Linked DNA regions of Homo sapiens: region 2 is linked to region 1. The links come from fine-mapping of genetic effects on gene expression. A gene starts in region 1. The other region holds a variant in brackets. All regions are shown on one strand. Distances are from middle to middle. Region 1 holds the start of ZMYND8 (zinc finger MYND-type containing 8). Region 2 overlaps ZMYND8 (zinc finger MYND-type containing 8).

Region 1 (10,346 bases):
ATTCCCAGGAATCTCATCTCCTCAACACTTCCAAGAGAGAGAAAAAAGAAAGCATCTAGTTTTGACAGAAAAATGCCTGAATACACAATGCCCACATATTTCTTTTCCCCAAGTGCCCCTACTATTTGACTTTTAAAGAAGAGTATCTAAGCCATCTAGAATATATAACCAACATGCACAAGACTCTGGTTCTACAGATGAGGATCATCGCACAGCAATTCAAGAATCATGCATCATTCGAAAGGACTTTTCCTGGTTTTTACTTTTCATTCAAAATACCAAAATGGTCCAGGCTGTAAGAAATATTTAATCCCCAAGGCATAACATCTTCCTCTTCTAGATTACAAAATAGTGAACATCAAAATTAAAAACCATGCTTCCCTAAATCTACAATTAATTTTTTAAGAAATTGGGGTGGGGGGGAATGGTTAGCAGAGCAGCTTTATATAAGCACTCACCTAAAACAGGCAGAGTCATCGGTAGCTAAGCTATTTATGCAGGATTCTTAAAATGGCGTCTGGCAACACTGCCTCATTCCTGTGTTGAAGCTAAAATGGTAGCAGTTTGTTCAATAGCTGTAGCTCTTGTTTAAGCAGCCCTGCGAGTTTCAAAGCCACCTTCCTAAATACCAGAACTAGGAAAAGCTGAACCAAAGGACACCAACAACCCAACGTTTAGAAGCTTAAAAAAAACTCTGCAATGACAGGGAGAGTTTGTGAAGTCACAGGTTCCTAAGGAAAAGCCTTCTCTTGTAGATCCTGAGCCTTCAACATGAGGCTCTGTGATGAGGCCCCCTTGCCCTCAAATTAGGTGGGTAGAAGGTTAGGAATCGTGCAGCCCCGTGGCACAAACTGCAGACGGACAGGTGTCTGTGCAAACACAAAAATGTTCCCAGGGAGCAGCCTGGGGGAAGGCAAGGAGGAAGCCCGGTCCCCCTTCTCTTCTCAGTCTATTAGAAACCAGCTTTGCATCCATACCAAAAAGGCGCTAGGTAAAATGAAAGTGCTTCAAGGACAGCAGGCATCTGAAAAGCCAAGCTAAAGGGCTGCACCTCAGTCTACGGCAAAGGTAAAATAAAAAGGCTGTTTATAAGCCTGCAAACAGCCACCAAATACCCAGCCCTCTGAAGCAGCCAGTCCTAAGACAGTTAACATCAAGGAAAGACAATCCGAGTCTGCAGAGGAGAAACACAAGGAAAACATTCCCTTATCCAATGCACAGGATACTCACAAATTAGATTTCTGACCACCCCCAACAGAGCCTGAGAATTAACAATGGGTTTTGCAAAACCCGCTTTCAGAGGCCGAACTAACAGCCTGAGTGGATAACGTCATTTACTGTTACAGGTCTGAGCATTGGCCTCAGAACTCCTCTGGTGCTGGGAGTGAGGAGTTTCAAGGTGACTGCTTTTTAGCTCCAGGGGAGAAAGGAGGGCACAGTGCCCAAGGCCATGCCAGGGCAAGGACGGGCCACTGGCCCCCGCCGGCCGGTAGGTAAGGTAATCGGGATGGGGGGGACAGGCTGGCAGCACACTGGCTGCAGAGCTGGCATGGCCACTGCCTGTTTGTTTGTCTGCAAGGAGAGTGGGAAGTAGCGGGGAGGGTGACCATAACCTTAGCAACCTGAAGCCAAGGGTGAACCCTTGCTCAGATCTTGCATTTTAAGAGTAACCAAAGGGTTCTGAAACATATTCCCTTTTTAAATCTCTGCTGTGCAGTAGCGAAGGCCCCTTTGAATGTATCTTTCTTTCCAGAGTCAACCAGAGGCAAAGCCAGATTGAGGGTTCCCAGGCTGACAAATGTCTGCTGCCTCTGCCACAGGAGAGAGAAGGGGAAAGAGGGCAAAAGAAACAAAGACATCACGCGTTGCAAGTGGCTGGACTTTTAAAAACCTACCTTTGCCTCCAGGGTTTTCTAGGTTACTGTCACCCCACTTCCTAAAAAGTGTCTCCCCCCTCATCCTATTTAAGACCTGATGCAGTCTCCCCACTGGTTCTCCCAGGGAAAGAAAAGGGGAAATGTTTTGTTGAAAATAAAAGGGATGACAAGAAAGAAAGGAAAAAAAGCTATTGTTTTCATCCCTAATTTATAATCCAAGAGGCCCCCAATTGTTTCTTTCTGACTCAAATCTTTGAGCTGTTAATTATAAAAGTAACTGGACTTGGCGCCAACGGGCTAACTATGATCAGGCTCAGCAATTAGAAAAACTCTGTAGAAAGTTTACTGAGTGATTATATATAATTAATTCCTAGTTACAGACTGAACACTGACCATTTTCTGGAGCTAATAAAAGCAGTTACTCCCCCTCCCCCACGTGAATGCCACTTAATTTCCCAAAGCAGAAAGTGAATCCATCCTGGAGGGTCTTGAAGGAAAAAAAAGGAGAGGAATCAAAAGCTTCAGTGTGTCTGTGTTTGCTCCTTGCAGCTGTGTATCCTCTTTGGGGACTGAGGAGGCAGAAGGAAAAAGGAAAACAGCCCAACATTCTGTTCCTCCTTCTGCAATTTACAAACGTGGCAGAGAGAACATTCTACCTTGATGAGAAAAAGAAGGGGGGTTGGGGGGAAGCAGGGAAGGGAGATGACCTAGGAATGGAAGGTAGGAGACGCTTCTGCTTGGCAGATCTGCTTTTCCTAAAAGGAACAAAGATGGTAGAAATTTCCAGAAGGCCCGTTCTTAGTTCGGCCACTGCAATTGTCAATCTTTAACCTTTCCTCCAAGTCTATTGGTTTAAAAGCTAGAGTAGAAGAACCCCATTGGGCTGCTCTGGGAGCCAGTACTGCCGTCCCTACCTAGTCCTGCTGCAATGCAGACATTTATTTTTTTCCCCCTTTCCTGAAACTGGAAAATAATGCTACTTTGAAAGCAATTAACTTTTTACAGACTCATGCTTGGTAGGGGTCACAGTACCAGAGGAAAAGTGGCTAGCTTGGTCCAGGGTTGGGAACTTGCTGGGGGCTGTACATTTGAAAACAGATCTTGGCTCTCCAAACCTGTGGGAGCCATTTTAATGCAAGCTTTTAGAGGACAAATGCCTTGCCCTTAAGTTCCCTTCCAGCCCAACAAACACAGTATTATGCAAACGTTGAAGGCACCAAACCAGGAGTCTTATGATTAGATATTGCTTCTAGGGAGGCCACAAGAACCTCGATATGTAATTTCCATTTACAGCAAGGAGATAAGAACAAAGAAAATAGCTGAGTGTCTGAACTTACTTGTTTGGGGCAGTGGCACTGTTCAGTTTTAAGTATATAACATCATTAACTGCCTGCAGTTTTACTCTAAGAAGCTAAGCTGGCCTGCCTTGCACAGACTTTTCTCAACTTAGAATGTGGTACGTTTCTGCTGATTAAATGAGCCTTTTTCCAATTCGGTGTCAGAAAGTGGGCTACTGGACACTCATTTGAAAGAAAAAAGATTACTGACTCCATAAAGTTGACATAACACAGCAATTGAATATATTTCCTGCATTTACGGTCATGTCGGATTGGTCTCCAAGCTGAAAATTTATGTACTGAACTTCTAGGGAAATTCTGAAGGTACTGCTAAACAAGACTCTACTTTTCCCACTTAACTTCTAGCTGCAGCCTTAAGTGGTCAAGGGAAATGTAAAAAGTGAGAAATCTTATGTGGGGCCAGCATGCATACAGATGTGTGGAGGAGACCTGAAAAAAGGCCAAAATGTGTTGGTCAGTGAGTCCTGAATCAAACCCAGTCTGGTGGTAGATGAGATTTTGCACTATACATAAGTCCTAAAACATGAGCACACTGACACCACCCCCCCAACACACACATACCACCACCACCACCAGCTTCTACACCACCAATGTTTTTAGGGCTCTGCACCTCTAAGAACAAGCAGTTTCATGACATTTCACAAGCACATCACCTACTCACAGTTTGAATATCCAAACAAACCCCATTAAAGGTCTAGAGTCAAGTCACAATGAACTGAACATTTCTCCCCTGACTCAGGGTAAACAGGAAGTATAATCTTCAATCCTAGCTGCAGGTTATCAGGAAAAACAGTGGATTCAAACAGTCACCTAAAATCAAGACACTCTTTAAAAAGCCCTTATTTTGTTCCTGCTAATGAAGCCCCCAACTCCTGTAGCCAAGACCCACTATTACAAACAGACCCCAAATGTTCGCAAAACTCTTCAAACATGGTCACAGAGGAAATGGATTGCTTTACTTACCCAACAAATGTTCAAGCAACCGTCTCATTTTTCCACAGTTAGGAAGAGAGAACAGGCTGGCAGATTTGGGACTTGATCAAAAAGGAAATTTTTTTAAACAGTTACATGGTATTATTAAAAACACACACAACAACAACAACACAACCCAACAACTGAATATGGAATGCTGTCATGAGCCACAGACATGATTTTATTTCCTCTACACTCCATGACACAGGAGAAGAGAGGAGGATACAATGTATAAAAGGGACAGGAAAATGAAAACAAGGATAAAAGGTAACATTAGTTCCTTGAAAATCATGCAAGAGTAGAAAGCTAAGGGATTCAGAATCCTTGCAGATTTTTTTTTTTTTTTTTTTTTGCAGGATGTTGTCCAAGATCTCTCCCCCCACCCCCCAGTCCCCATCCCTACTCCAAAAAACTTCCTCCAAAGCCTAGAAAACACTTTCAGAAACATTTGCTGGCTGTAGGCTGGCTTGCAGAACACTCTGTAGCAACCTAAGTCAGGAAAACAGGCTGAACAATGTAGTTTCAAGTGCAGAAGCTCTGTAGAATAAGAGAAGACCGTGTACAGACACCACCACCCACCTAGGCCCCAGGAGCTAGACTCTCCTTAGCACTGCTCTGCTGAGGGCACAATTCTTTTGCAAACACGCTCCTCTCTTGTCAAAACTTATCCAGCCTTCCCAGAACCTCTTTGGAGAGGCAAACTTGCCTGCTCTGCTGTCTGCCATGAGCTCTCCTTGGAGAGGAGCCTGTTTGCTTACCTTCCATTTTCTTCCCCCAGCAGGGCATGTGGCAAAAGAGAAGACAATAGTGCAGGGGTGGGAGGGGGGGAACTGCTCAGAGAGAGAGAGAGGGGAAGAGAGAGGGAAGAGGGAAAGAAAAAAAAAAAAAGAAGGAAAAAAAAAAGCTTCTTTTTTGGCATACCAGGATCTAGCTTCAAACTCTTCCAGAAACACCATGCCCTGGTGGAAGGAAAGGTGTGCCAGGCCCTTGCCAGTTTGCAAAATCAAGCTATGGCTAATGGCTACTGAGCCATGTGACCCAAGAAAGCAAAAAAATTCTCTCTAAACAGTTCCAAGTTAACATAAGTGCTCTGGGGGTGAGTGTGGCACGGCCAGCCACAGAGAAATCACACTGCTCGCCCACAATTCGGATGTCTCAGAGGGAGGGGGAAAAAAGATGGTTAAAAAGTCGAGCTTACCTCTGTGGATGCATTGTTAACACTGTGTAATGTCAATACTTATAAAACATGGAGGACAGGCTCCTAGTTCTCACAGAAAAAGGGTTTGGCACTTCGGCTGATGATCTGGCCGCCTAATAAAAGCTCATCCCCGATTGGCTGCCCCGGCAAATCGGAGTGTAAAGCCGCCCCGGATTGGCTGAAACACTTCCTGAGCGATTATCTTTGTGAGGCTCGGGTGAGCAAGAGCCATCCTGTGCATAGAAAAAGACAGGCTAAGCTAGGCCTTTTGCAGCAAGAAAAACTTGGGAAAGGGGCCCCCACACGCACTTCTCCTGCACCCTGGCTAGATTTCCCGGCACGGGCCAGCCAGGGCAGCCAGCCTGACCTGCTCCAGGAAAGCCTGAGGCCCGGAGGTCCCTGGGAAGGGAGTTTCTTGGAGTGGGCTGGAACGGCTCACCCTCACCTGCCCCCAGAGAAACGGCCCTTGTCCAGGGAGGAAGGCCAGCCTTTTTCTAGAACAGTCCAGCAGGGTGGCTCTCCAAGGGGAAGGGGAAGCTGGGGAGTGGGGAGTCCCGGGGAAACAGCCAAGGGGCCAGAAAAAGGGGCTTGAGGCAGGCCTCTGAGAAGCTGGGGGAAGCAGGCAGCCCGGGGGAGCCCCGAAAAATCAGCAGAGAGCAGCCCTGGCTTCTCAGAGGAGCGAGGAGTAGCTGCTGAGGGGAGGAGGGGAGCAGAGTGGTCAAGTTTGCATAGTCATTGTCCCCATGCCTCCTTGCAAGGCAGGCCAGGGAGCCGTGGGCCTCTCGCGCCCTGCTTAGCCAGTCCTGCAGGCAAAATCAACGTGGGTTCCTGTCGCCCTGCCACGATGCCAAGGGGGACCCCTCTCGGTCCTTACCCTAAGAAAAACCCAAAGCCCTCCTCGCAGGCCACATGCCTGGATCTACAAACTTCCCTTCCCTCCCGGCCCCTCCCCCGCGGCCGAGACCTGCTAAACCTGTCAGTTAAACACAAATCTGACTTCCGTATTAGCCTGCGATGCCTTCGGCTTCCTGCCTGTTAACCCTCTCTCGGACTCGGGGCCTGGCTGGGAAAAACTAGGCCTTGAGATCGCAGCGAAGGCCTGTGGAAAAATACCAGCTGCAGCTCTCCCGGCAGATGCAGAAAGAGAGAGAGAGAGCCGCTGTCTCTCAGCCTTTGCTTCCCAGGGAGGCGTGTACCTTGTGAATCCAGGGCACAGGCAGTGCCTCTCGGGCTGAGAAGCCATTTCAATCCAGAGGGAGACAGAAAGATGGCACGCTCAGCCCGGAAACAAGAGCCCCCATTATGCGTCAGGCCTACCCCCGTAGGTCAGCCCTTCCTGCCACAATCATCCCTGTATGTGTGTGCCTGGGGGAGTTGGGCCCTCCTCGGTGGGCAGACAAATCCCCTGGGCTTCCTAAGGATTCTTGCTTCCATTTATTTGCACAGAGAACGGCTTCTTTTCGTCCCCCAAGGCAGATGGAGCAGCGATTTCACACACAGCCCTCCATTTGGCAGCCCCCCCACCCCCCCATCTCTGGCACCGCTCCCCAGTAAAATATTAACTGGTTGTTCAGAGCTGCTTACAATTCTACCCACTTCAATTGCGTTAGGAGGTCTTTGCTGGTCTCCTCCCTAAAGCTGCCTTCGCAGTTGGTCTGTACCCAGAGATAGAAAAGGACCGTAAAATGTCCCCAGCTTTCTCGCTCTCTTTCCTTCTTCGGCATTTTAAATGACAAGGTGCTTAATTAACAGGATTTTTTAAAACAGCAACCTGGAACCACAGAAGCTAAATAAACACCATTCTTTAGAGGCTGGAGAAAGCGTCCAGAGTTAACGCAGCCATATGCCAGGAGGCATAACTCCGGAGCAATAAAGTCTCCCCTCTCCTCCTAAAATTAGGACTTGTGGGCTTTCTTGTCCCACACGGTTCCCACAAAGAAAACGAAGAGCTGATGGCTTGCTTTCCCTGCCCCCCCCCAACCCCCACATGGACAACAGATGCCCACTGCTTGTACATAAATTCTTCCTGGCCGGGAATCTCATATCAAACAGGCTCAGGAACGAGCTGGGAATCGAAACTCACTGTACGGCAGGGCAGGACCCAGGCTTTATAAAAACGGACAGGATGTTGCTGTTGTTACTGTTTTAGGCTGCTGAGGCCAAGCTGCAGGGAGGGACAGCTCCATGGCCACCCAACCTGACAAAGCTCCAGGGCTCAGGACAGCAGGCCTGGGCCTCACCAAAAGGGAGGGGCCTGCTCTTCCTGGAGGTAGAAAGCTGCATGGGGAGACTAAATGGGAGGAGGCGAGAGGTGGAGGCCACAGTGAAGCAGTGCGTGCTCACCCTCCTAGCTGTGTGGGCAGCGGCCCTCCACCGCCATCCCATATGGAATGCTGTTTGTTTCTGCGGGTGCTGCTTTGAGGGGAACAAACAGGACTGTGGGGTTGGTGGCAGATCTCCCATGCAGCTAAGTCCACGAACCAATGAGGAAATAAAATATGCCGCTGGTGTGCGTGGTGGATTTTAACCTGGGATTAAAGCTTGTTGCATAAGCAGCTACAGCATCCTCCCCGCCTCCCTCCCTCTCTCTGATCACTTGATCACTTGAAATGTTTTCTGGGGCAAAGAGCAGGAAGCTGCTGGCTTATTCTGGCAGCTCTGCTCTGTTTGAGGAATGCTGTTGGCATTCGGGTAGGTCTGAGGTTATCTGGAAAACAGCAATTCGGCTGGGGACAGACACAAAAGTATGGTGGCAGATGGAATCCTGGGAGGAACACAGATTGAAAAGAAAGCCTGGGGCAGGCCTACGAAGGGCTGGTCCTGGGCTTCATGGAATGTGGCTGATAAGCAGGAAATAAAACCAAATGTTGCAGGTCTCAATCTAGAAATCCATTCAGCAGCTCCTCTTAAAGCCCCACTGCAGTGAGTATCCCAGCAGTTACTTCTAAATTAGTGCTTTACATAGACTGATTCCTGAAGTAGGTGGCATTGTTAGAAACCTGGAACTAAGCCCAGAGAGGTGAAGTGAGCTGCCCAAGGTCACACAGCTGGGAAGTGCCAGAGATCAGATGTCCACCCCGTTAGCACTTCACATCCCTAAACTCTGTACCTTCTCCTGGCTCTAAAGAAAGAAGCAAAAGCAAAGCCGAACCAAGCACAGCAGAAACAATGAGGCTGAAACCTACGAACAGCAACTGCATAATCTGTGTTTTCTTTTAGGAGGTAGACCAGTTTTTTGCTTTTTTGTTTTTTGATACAGTGTCTCGCTCTGTCGCCCAGGCTTGAGTGCAGTGGCATCATCACAACTCAATGCTGCAACCTGAAGACCCACCCTTTTGAGGTGGGTTTTCAGTATTGAATGATGGCGCTGAAGGAAACTTTTAGATTAGACTCATTCAAATGCCCCTCATTACAGATTGAGGCCCAGAGGAAGCGACCCTCTCCCTCCCAACCTCCAGCAAGATGCAAGATGTCAAGGGGGAACACTTTGCCATCTCTAAAATTAGGCTTTTATATTCCCTGAAACCAGTGGTTCAACCATGGGGGGATTTGCCCTTCAGGGGGCATTTGGCAATGCTTGGAGACGTGTGGGTTGTCACAGTTAGGGAGGTTGTATTACCGGTATCCAGTGGGTAGAGGCCAAGGATGATGCAAAACATCCTATAAGTACACAAGACCAGCCCCGCCACAACAAGGAAGTATCTGATCCAAAATGTCCAAGGTTGGGAAACCCTGGCTTTAAGCCCTTTAAGGAAAGGGAAGAAAACAGTCCAATCATTCTGCCTCTGGCTAGAAAAGCCAGCACAGGCCTAAACAAGCAGGTTCTTTGGTGATATTAATAAGCAATGAGCTAATAAAAATAGATTAAAACGTGTCTCTCTTAATATTCCCAGGGTACAGAGAGGATTGGGGTACAGAATCAGGCTGTGGGGAGCCAGGCAGAGTGTCACAGTAACAACACTGGTCTCGAGGGAGAGGAAAGGCTGGCCCCAGCTCCCTTCCCCCAGCACCTTACGAGCTGAGGCCTGGCCTCCCTGAAATGGCTCGCCCGTTCCGCTGGCCTCCAGCCAGGCGAGCAGCAGCAGGAGCGGCCCCACAAGCTGCATCCCGAGATAGCCTGTTCGGCTGCCTACAAAAATAAGCACACTTGCAGTTATCGGCCTCCAGCTACAGCAGGCCTCTCTGACCGTTACGCGAAATGGACAGGATTGAGTCAGGGAAGTGTTTTAAATATCTTGTTTTGTTTTGTTCCTTTCTGGCCAATTAGAACCGAGGCCAACTTCGGGCACGGTGACAGAAGGGCTCACCTTCAGAGCCCGGAGCTGACTGTGTCATGTTACAGCCACAAAGAGGCAGATAGGAGCCTCCCTCCCTTGGAGAAGATGCCTACTAGGAGAGGGGTGTGGGGTTTTTTGGTTTTGTTTTGTTTTTTTACCTCTTTCTAGGAGGGACTGGCAGGATTAGGCAAACGGCGGGAGGGAAAACAAAAAGGGCTAGTGGAAAGGGCAGGGGGTGGATGGTCGCCCCTCATCAGGCAGATGGCCACAGCGCGGGTGGGGCGCCGAGCAAGGGATGCAGGAGCAGAAGGAAAATGAAAAGCAGGAAAACTCAGGCCCTACTCTTTTTTCTTCCTAGCAATTACTTTTATGGGCAGAAGACTATAGATTCGTTCGCTCTGTTTCTCCCTCCCACTGGACCGGTGGTTTTGCCCCCGCAAGGGGACATTTAGCAATGCCTAGGGACATTTTGGGTTGTCTCCATTTTGGGTTGTAAGATCTTTCAGGGAAGTGGGGAGTGCTACTGGCATCTAGTGCTGCTAAACATCCTACAACACATAGGACAAGACCCCCCAGCGGAGAATTAGCCAGCCTCAAATGTCAATAGTGCAGAGGCTGAGAAACTGTGCACCAGGCTGAGCACTTCACGAGGCAAGGAAGGACC
Region 2 (10,346 bases), 140 kb before region 1:
CAAAACAACATTTAGAATTAAAAATGTCGGCCAGGCATGGTGGCTCACGCCTGTAATCCAAGCAGTCTGGGAGGCCGAGGCAGGTGGATTGCCTGAGCTCAGGAGTTCGAGACCAACCTGGGCAACACGGTGAAACCCCATCTCTAATAAAATACAAAAAATTAGCTGGGCGTGGTGGTGTATTCCTGTAATCTCAGCTGCTCAGGAGGCTGAGGCAGGAGAATCACTTGAACCTGGGAAGCAGAGGTTGCAGTGAGCCAAGATTGCACCACTGCACTCCAGCCTGGGCAACAGTGCAAGACTCCATCTCAAATACTAATAATAATAATAATAAATGTCCATGACTGTTAATGGCTTAGGGGGATGGTGGAGTATCAGAATAGAAACTGTATCATAGCAGCAGCGGAGTGTGTAAAGAAAGGGAAATGGAGACAAATGAAACAACTTTTTTTTTTTTTTTTAAATATGAGGTCTCACTCTGTTGCCCAGCTGGAGTGCAGTGGCTATTCACAGGCACTCACTGCAGTCTCAAAACTCCTAGGCTCAAGTAACCCCCCTGACTCAGCCTCTCCAAGTAGCTGGGACTACAGGTGGGCCCTAGCTCTAGAATAACAACCCTTGAAGAGACATCTAACTAACTGGGTTGAGGAAGGAGACAGGACAGGTCTTAAGCTATGCCATTCAATATGGTAACCACTACAATAAGATACAATGTTAAATTCCATTCCTCAGTCGCACTAGCCACAGTTCAAGGCTTCAGCAGCGACACGTGGCTAGTGGCTACCATAGTGGACAGTGCAAATATAAGAACATGGCCATTGTCACAGAACGTTCTATTGGAGATGCAAGGTGTCAAGGAAGGCACTTGGAGATAGATGAGGATATTTAAGTGCCTAGGAAGAAAAGCAATACAGAGTGAGAAATCTGGCTACAACAAAGGATGCAGATGCCTTTGAACGGCAGGAGGGAAGGACAGAGCACACCACGGAGGCCCTGCAGAGGGCAGAGGAGCAGCCCTGAGCGCCCAGGGATGGTGACGCAGGGAGAGATGCAGGGAGGTCCAAAACAGAGCAGAGAACTTGAGAAATAGCCATCATGGACGATGGAATCCTGATAAAAACAAAAAACTTGGGTCACAACACAGGCCTCTGGCCAGGCACGGTGGCTCATGCCTGTAATCCAGCACTTTGGGAAGCCAAGGTGGGTGAATCACTTGAGGTCAGGAGTTCAAGACCAGCCTGGCCAACACAGTGAAACCTTGTCTCTATTAAAAATACAAAAAATTAGTTGGGCATGGTGATGCACACCTGTAATCCCAGCTACTCAGGAGGCTGAGGCAGGAGAATCACCTGAATTGAGGAGGCAAAGGTTGTAGTGAGCCAAGATCACGCAACTGCACTCCAGTCTGGACAACAGAGCGAAGACTCTGTCTCAAAAAAAAAAAAAAAAAAAAAAAGGGCCGGGCTGGGCGTAGTGGCTCAAGCTTGTAATCCCAGCACTTTGGGAGGCCAAGGCACGTGAAATCACCTGAGGTCAGGGGTTCAAGACCAGCCTGGCCAACATGGTGAAACCCCATCTCTACTAAAAATACAAAATTAGCTGGGTGTGGTGGTGCACACCTATAATCCCAGCTACTCGGGAGGCTGAGGCAGGAGAATCACTTGAACCCAGGAGGCAGAGGTTGCAGTGAGCCGAGATCATGCCACTGCACTCCAGCCTGGGCGACAGAGCAAAGACTCTGTCTCAAAAAAGTAGAATAAAAAAAGAACACAGGTCTCTGGGGACAAAAAGTATTAATAAAAGAAAAACATATTGGGAAGACGATCCGGCAGAAGAGAATATCTGCTTCTGAGGTTAGTGACCCAGATTTGCGTGTGTGATGAGAGGAGTTTGTGTTCTTGTGTAACATTCTCCAGTTAAGCACTGAGGCTCAGGTGCAGGTAAATCAAAAGCGGAAAGCTGGGGTTCATCCAAGGTGAGGTTTTGCCAAATGGACATGCTAGGAAAACAGGAAGGGCCTGGGAGACTGGGTTGTATTAGCAACAGTACTCCATGGAAATTAAGCTGGGTAAGGAGGTAGGAAGGAGGGAGGTATAGAAACAAGACAGTTAGTAGAATTGGGTGAGGAAAAAAAGGCCACATCTGCACGCTGACGTTTCCTAGAGATCAGTGCCTTATTAGCAGAGCCACGCACAAGTGCCATTACTCAGCCATTTTTGAGTTACAACAATTTTATAGGTGTCCACCTAAGTATACCTGACATATGGTTGCAAGCATGAGTCTGGATTGCAAAGCTCAATTGGTTGCATATGGTTGCAAAGCTCAGTCCTTGTTAAAAAGAGAATCAAGAAATATGAGAGATGCTAAAGACATCTCAGTATCAAACTAAGCCTGTTCGAAGGGGAAGTGAAGAGGGAGTTGCTTTCTCAGTAGGTGCTTCCGTCATATTTAATGCCAAGTTCGTATCCTTCCTAAAGTGAGCTCACGTTACTCCCTCTGACTGTGCCCCCAAATCCCACCCACCCACCTTTCAAAGCATGAGTCTGGAGAGATCTGAACTGAAGTCTTGGCTCTCATAATTACTCATTGAGTTACCTGGGCATCTGAGTTAATGTCTCTGGACCTCAACTTGCTCATCTGTATAATGGAAATACTAACTATGCTCTTACAGACATTGGGGAAAAACATGATAAGGTGTTCATGCTCTTCAGTATCACCAATAGCTGCTCTTCTGACTTCCTTTGAAACTCCACGAAGATAGGCATTTATCTGCCTTATTCAGAAAAACTGCCCCTTCCTCCCCCTGCTCGCCCCCCTCTTCCCCCCACCATTTACTGGGGCTTCTTGCCTCCTCTCCCTTCCACTCCCTGGGCCAGTGTGCCTCAGGTCAGGAGTCAGCAAACTATGGCCAGCTCAATGCCTGTTTTTGCAATTCAAGTTTCATTGGCACAAGGCACACGTTTGTTTACATATTATCTATGTCTACTTTCACACTACAACGGCAGGGTGAGCAGCTATGACAGGAACCATGCGGCCTGCAAAACCTAAAATACTTACTAAATGGCCCTCTATGGAAAAAGTTTCTTGACCCTGGTCTAGGTAATACTCCTCCAGCTCAGAATGGAATACGATGCCTCTCCCAACTACCTTCCTGTATGCCACCCTCCTGATGCCAACAGACTCCTGCCAGATTCATCCTACCACGGCATCATTCATCTTCTCAGATGCCATTTCAATCAAGCCACTTTGAGGCTCCAAAACCCTAACAGCACCCCTCTGTCTGAAACGGTGTTTCCCTAACTTGGACCTTCCTCACACCACTTGTGCCATTTCGACACATCCATAGTCCTCTTACATATTGCTTAGTTCATGTTTTTATTTTAAACTTATGTAACTTAGGTAAATAACTAAACTTTTATTGTTAACCAACAAAAAACACAAAACCAATAAAATCTGCTGTTAAATCAAGGGCAACTCCAAAAATGAATGTAATGAAAACCTTAAATTAAAAGTTCTAGGGTGGGGAGCATGCGGCTAAAATCTAGAGTCTGCTCAGTCTTTGTTAAAAAGAGAATCAGGAAATATGAGAGATGCTAAAGACATCTTAGCACTAAACTGAGCCTGTTACAAGGGGAAGTGAAGAGGGAGTTGCTTTTTCAATAGGTGGTTCAGTCATATTTAATGCCAAGTTCATATCCTCCCTCCTAAAGCAAGCTCATATTACTCCCTCTGACTGTGCCCCCAAATCCCATCCAACTTTCAAGGCCTAGCCCCTTAGGGAAACCGTTCCCAGCCCCTAACAATGGACATCACTTCTTCCTCCATGCACTCAATATGCAGAAGTGAAATGAAATGTTTGCTTTTCAGCTCAAGAGAATCGTCAGTGGCTCACGCCTGTAATCCCAGCACTTCCGGAGGCAGAGGCGGGAGGATCACTTGAGGTCAAGAGATCAAGACCAACCTGGCCAACATGGCAAAACCCCGTTTCTACAATTTTTTTTTTTTTTTTTTTTGAGAGAGAGTCTCGCTCTGTCTTCCAGGCTGGAGCGCAGTGGCACGATCTCGACTCACTGCAACCTCCACCTCCTGGGTTCAAGCGATTCTCCTGCCTCAGCCTCCCAAGTAGCTGGGATTACAGGCGCATGTCACCACGCCCAGCTAATTTTTGTACTTTTAGTAGAGACAGGGTTTCACCATGTTGGTCAGGCTGGTCTCAAACTCCTGACCTTGTGATCCGCCCACCTCAGCCTCCCAAAGTGCTGGGATTACAGGCATGAGCCACTGCGCCCGGCCTACCAAAATTTTTTTAAAAAATTAGCCAGGCATGGTGGTGCGTCCCTGTAGTCCCAGCTACTTGGGAGGCTGAGGCAGGAGAATCACTTGAGCCTGGGAGGCGGAGGTTGCAGTGAGCTGAGATCACACTACTGCACTCCAGCCTGGGCGACAGGGCAAGACTGTCT[C/CA]AAAAAAAAAAAAAAATCATCATCAGGCAGAAAGGTCCTGGAGCTGTGGTGCCAGGCAAAAACCTTGAATGAAGTAAAACTGTCTTCCACCAGGAAGACACCTTCTCTGAACCCTTCTGGAATGACCCAAAACTGCTTTAAGAAAGTGCAGGAAAAAGATTCTTTGGGCTAAGGAAGGAAGACAGCTCAAACCCCACAGAAGAAAAAACCTAGATGTCAAGTCTCAGAAATTTCCCCAAACCTGCCTGCCAGGTTATTCTCCAAAAGGAAAGGATTTAACAGAAAGATCATCCACTTAAGCACTGCCTTCAATTCTCAAAGGCTTGAGCGCCTTCATCCACCATATGCAGGTGTCAGAACCTCAGAATAAAATCTTACACAGTGTCATTTACCGTTCTCATTTCCCTGAGAGAGAGAGAAAAAAAAAACTTCCCAATCCAAATGCACTTCTTCTACCCTACCCCAGGTCAGCAACAGAACCCTCTGTCCAAATGGAGTTTTATGTGGATCCCCAGTAAATACAATAGGTAATACCGATCAGCTTGAAGAGGTACCTGAAAGTTAACATGCTCAGCTACCCCCTCACCCCCACTGACCCACCCCAGGCACCCCTAAGGATCCATAATCGTTTGGAAACCATTGGAATAAACCCTTCAAATTCTCCCTGACAAAATGGCTCCCCATCTGCCCATCTGAAATGTGAAAGCACCGTTCGCCCACCAGGGGGCAACATACCAGAGCCTTGGTTGGAGCCTAAGAGAATGGAGGAGGGCGTCTCTCTGGAGCCAGAAAGGTCAAGGGTCTAGAAATACAAAAAGAAAAAGATGGACTCAAGGCACTGAGGCTACTGTCGCCCCCACAGGGAAATCCAGGGAGTCATGGGGGTGCTCATCGCTGCCCCCAAAGCATCTCAGTGTCCTCTGCCTGGCACGGTCAGGTGGGAGTGATGGGCACAGGGCGGCCAGGTGGCCAAACCCCAGGTACCATCTCCCACACTGAACAGACTGGAACGCAGCACCAGAGTGGCCCCTCACTGTACCCTAGAACATTCACTGTTTCCTAAACTCCACTCACTAACAGAACCCCCTCCAGATTTTTGCCATATCCAAGGAGAAAGTACATTACTTCAAAATTCTGTCAGTCCGCTTTTAATTCATGCTAGCCTCTGACTAGGTAATACTATCAGTTAAACCAACATGTTTTAACTGACAGTCTAACGATTTATCTTTTTCCTAATATGCAATGAAATAGATATACAGTGACTAAAAATGTAAAAAACTATATACTCATGAAAATAGTCTTTGCATACCATCAATGTCACATACATCACACCCTGGCAAACAAACAAGGAGGTGAAACCTTCGTGGCCCAATAGGGCAGCCACTAGCCACATGTGGCTACTGAAATCTCAATTAATTAAAATTAAATAAAACTGTAAAATCAGGTCCTCGGTCACACTAGCTGCATTTCAAGTGCTCAAAAGCTGCATGTAGCTAGCAGCTACCATTCTGGACGGGAAGTACAGAACATTTCCATCATCGCAGAAAGTTCTCCTGGGCAACACTATTCTACACTTTGAGGGTCCCCAGCAGAGAGTACTGGGGAGCAGCTGCCAGGTCCCACACACGCCGGCCCAGGCTCCATGTTCCCACACATCCACTGGAAATGCCGGCACACTGTTAGGACAAGCCTCCCACAACACGGAACTTTCAGGGCGGCAGACAGGGGGTCCTAAGTCCACTTGGCACAAAGGGTAGATGTCACTAGCCAAAGGCATGGGGGGATCCTCACCGAGCCACTCTCCTTGCTTTTCTCAGCTGACGTCTCCTTCTCTTTGGAGGCGCTGGCCGTTTCTGAAGGTGCTGATTGTGTGCTCGAGGAGCTCCCCTGGGAGGACTTATTTAGTGTTTCTGTGTTCACCTCAGCATCCGCTTCCTGCTGAGGAGCAGTAGCTGGGGACAAAGGAGAGAGAGAGACGCCACATATACACAGAGTACGATGATTTTGAAACATGCATGGAGCCCCGCCCTGCACCCAGTGGCACCCAAGGCTCAGCCCTACCCAGGGCATAAAAGTGGAGGCTCAAGGGGGCCAGATTGCCAGAGTTTTCCAGAAGCTGGAATTCCAAACTTTAGAATTCCAAATTTTAACATAAACATGCTGAGATGGAGTCTCGCTCTGTCAGCCAGGCTGGAGTGCAATGGCACGATCTCAGCTCACTGCAACCTCTGTCTCCTGGGTTCAAGTGATTCTCTTGTCTCAGCCCACCAAGTAGCTGGGACTCAGGTGCACACCACCATGTCCGACTAATTTTTTGTATTTTTAGTAGAGACAGGGTTTCACCATGTTGGTCAAGCTGGTATTGAACTCCTGACCTTAGGTGATCCACCCACCTCGGCCTCCCAAAGTGCTAGGATTACAGGCTTGAGCCACCGTGCCTAGCCAACATGTTGATTTTTAATGGTTAGCAATTCAAGTTTTATTAAATCATTCTGGAGATGAAAGTATATTCCTGGAACAAATAAAGCCCATCAACAAGAGCCAACCTGTAACTGCTGATTTAGTTACTCTATTTAGTCATTTCTAGGTGGAGACCTATATTTTTAGCCCCAGAGACTTTCTTCCTTCTAAGGTGGGACAGGAAAACCACGTGAAAGGCGACATGCTATCAGAGGCCCAGAGAATCTGGAGATGGCAGAAACTTGGACACATAGAAAAACAGGGCGTTTGGGGCCGGGTGCGGCGGCTCATGCCTGTAATCCCAGCACTTTGGGAGGCTGAGGCGGGCAGATCACGAGGTCAGGAGATCAAGACCATACTGGCTAACACAGTAAAACCCTGTCTCTACTAAAAAACACAAAAAATTAGCCAGGCGTGGTGGCGGGCACCTGTAGTCCCAGCTACTAGGGAGGCTGAGGAAGGAGAATGGCATGAGCCCGGGAGGCGGAGCTTGCAGTGAGCTGAGATCGCGCCGTTGCACTCCAGCCTGGGAGAAAGAGCGAGACTCCGTCTCAACGAAAAAAAAAAGGAAAAGAAAAACGCGTCTGGGAGGAATTTAGGAAGAACAGATGTAATTATGTCACAAAAAAAGGAAAGCCGAAGGACATTTTGGCCATCTTGGCAAAACAGCAAAAGGCTCATCAGACACATTCCAGAACGGAGGGAAAACACAAAGAGACTTTACTCCAGTAAGAGACCAAAAGTCTCTACAAAGAAGACATCTCCCTAAAGACTAAAGAACAGGGCAAGGTATTCTCCAATATTGCCTTTTAAAAAATAATAAAATAACAGATTTGTCTAGAGCAAGAGCTGGCAAGCTAGTGCTGCCTGTTTTATTGGCAGACAGCCACATCCATCCATTTATATATCATCTATGTCCATCCATTTACATATCATCTAAGACTGCTTCTGCACTGCAACAGCAGAGTTAAGTAGTAGCAACAGAAACCACATGGTGTACAAAGCCTAAAATATTCACTCTCGCCCTTCACAGAAAAAGTTTACCAACCCCTGGTCAAGCTTCTCACACTTGAGTCATTTACATACCACCTTTGCAAATTTTGCCAATCCGCAGACATACTACTTTATTGTATTATTTATGGGACACTTGAAATTCTTTAAAATGGAAGTGTTTAATTCCAACCATACAAAGCTAGTATCATTTGCCACAAATAAAAGCTAATGGTAAAAAATAACTTATAGGCTGGGCGTGGTGGCTCACACCTGTAATCCCAGTACTTTGGGAGGCTGAGGCCGGCAGATCACTTGAGGTCAGGAGTTCAAGACCAGCCTGGCCAACATGGTGAAACCCTGTCTCTACTAATAATACAAAAATTAGCTGCGCATGGTGATGTGTGCCTGTAATACCAGCCACTTGGGAGGCTGAGGCAGGAGAATCAGTGGAAGCCAGGAGGCAGGGTTGCAGTGAGCCGAGATCGTGTCACTGCACTCCAGCCTGGGGGACAAGAGCAAAACTCTGTCTCAAAATAATAATAATAATAATTCATAAAATATTATTGATGCCAGGCGCTGTGGCTCACGCCTGTAATCCCAGCACTTTGGGAGGCCAAGGTAGGTGGATCACCTGAGGTCAGGAGTTAAAGACCAGCCTGACCAACATGGAGAAACCCCATCTCTACTAAAAATACTAAAAATTAGCCGGGCATAGTGGCATATTTCTGTAATCCCAGCTACTCGGGAGGCTGAGGCAGGAGAATCGCTTGAACCCGGAAGGCAGAGGTTGCACTAAGCCGAGATCACGCCACTGCACTCCAGCCTGGGCAACAAGAGCGAAACTCTGTCTCAAAAAAAAAAAAAAAAGGATAAATTCTAACTAGATAGTGCTTCCTGCTGGAAGCTCTAGGCCTGGGGACTGCTTGTTCTATGTTGGAAAGGGTGATTACAAATATTACAGCAGTGTCAAAGATAGGTTAGTACCAAACTAACACTTTTTACTTAACAAAGAAATTGGGAATCCATATTATCTAAAGCCACAAGTCCATTACTGCCAAAAAAAACACAGTGTCTCAACTTCAGTACTACTGACACTTTAGGCCTGAGAAGAGATCAAGGGTTCTGCAAAGATCAAAGGTTCAAAATGCCCATGGCTCAAGTTTTAGCTATGTGCCTGCACACTGCTCACCTGTGTGTAAGACACAATTGTTTTTGAGTGAAAGTGTCCAGAAGCCAGGCAAGCTCCCTTGACAATTAGCCCTGAGACCCCTGAAGTCCACAGGGGAGACCAATGCCAAGCCACTGCAGCCCAGGACGGGAGGCAGCCCCACAGGGCATTACCTGACTGGGTGCAGGACTTCATGTGCTCAGGCCAGTGGGCTTGCTGGCAGGGGTAGTCACAGTAGCTGGTGTTCCAACAGCAGTAAAAGATGGCCTCCTTCTTGCAGTTGGCGCACCACTGCTTCTTCTTGGTCTCATCCACCGCCTGCTGCTTCTCCAACTCCAGCTGCTTCTTCACCTCGGCGATGAGCCGGTCCCGCTCCTGCTCCAGGCTCTGCCGCATCTCCGCCATGGTCAGCTCTGGTGGAGGAGGGGAAGAACACCGCTCATCACCTGACCCCAGCCTGGGGTGTGGGGTTATTCCTGCCCCCAGATTCAGGCAGACGTGGATGCAAGACCTGGCTGGGAGAAGCCCTGGCTGTGTGCCCATGGGCAATAACCTAGCCCGAGTCTTCATCTGTAAATAGGGCATTCATCATGGTGACCAGATGGTGCTGCCTGTTGAGAGTGGACATGAGGTGCCCAGCATGGACATAACTGCAGCCCCAGAGGATTTTCCACACCAGACTACATTCTGGGAATTCCTCAAAGTAACCCTTGAAACAACTGCCACCAAAACTCACTTTCTATCCTATTATTCATTAACATAAGCCTTTTCCCCCCTATCAATCAAATACCTATACAGCACCCACTACATGAAGGCACTGTTCTAAGAACTTTATAAATATTAACTCATATAACCCTCATCCTAATAATCCTACGGGGTAAGTACTACTATTCTACCCCTTTCGCAGATGAGGAAACCGAGGCAAACAGCTAGCTGGGCCTAGACCTCAGGCGTGCTTTCTTGTAGGTGTCTCCTGTGGCACTGGATCCAGATGGGACTGTGGTTGATGATTATACTAACAGGACAACTATGAACCTACTCAGTCTACCAAGATTTCTCTAATTTTACTTCAGACAGTTAAGTCCACTGGTAATTCATTTAGGAGTGACCTGCTGGCTGTAATAAAAGAAAAATAGGCCAAGTGCAGTGGCTCATGCCTGTAATCCCAGCACTTTGGGAGGCTGAGGCAGATGGATCACCTGAGGTCAGGAGTTTGAGACCAGCCTGGCCAACATGGTGAAACCCTGTCTCTGCTAAAAATACAA

Evidence for each region. PIP is the estimated chance that this variant, and not a neighbour inherited with it, causes the effect. A credible set is the group of variants that fine-mapping cannot tell apart.
Region 2: its variant is the best candidate, but not a certain one, in a credible set for the expression of ZMYND8 in whole blood (INTERVAL, PIP 0.59).

The regions. Positions count from the first base shown.
Region 1 is chr20:47,351,252-47,361,597 of GRCh38, forward strand. It overlaps ZMYND8 (zinc finger MYND-type containing 8), which reads right to left and starts at 5,448. Exons shown (of 23, transcript NM_001281775.3): 1 at 5,406-5,448. The coding sequence starts at 5,419. It overlaps LOC101927377 (a long non-coding RNA gene), which reads left to right and starts at 1,310. Exons shown (of 2, transcript NR_134501.1): 1 at 1,310-1,489; 2 at 1,754-3,382. RefSeq lists enhancers at 3,449-4,056, 3,897-3,976, 5,259-5,428, 5,272-5,879, 5,414-5,708 and 8 more and cis regulatory regions at 7,555-7,768, 9,271-9,926.
Region 2 is chr20:47,215,063-47,225,408 of GRCh38, forward strand. It overlaps ZMYND8 (zinc finger MYND-type containing 8), which reads right to left. Exons shown (of 23, transcript NM_001281775.3): 19 at 9,255-9,494; 20 at 6,252-6,412; 21 at 5,196-5,262. Among named protein-coding and RNA genes, the nearest start is that of MIR3616, 53 kb to the left of the region's middle. The variant C/CA (reference allele first, on the strand shown) is at 4,461.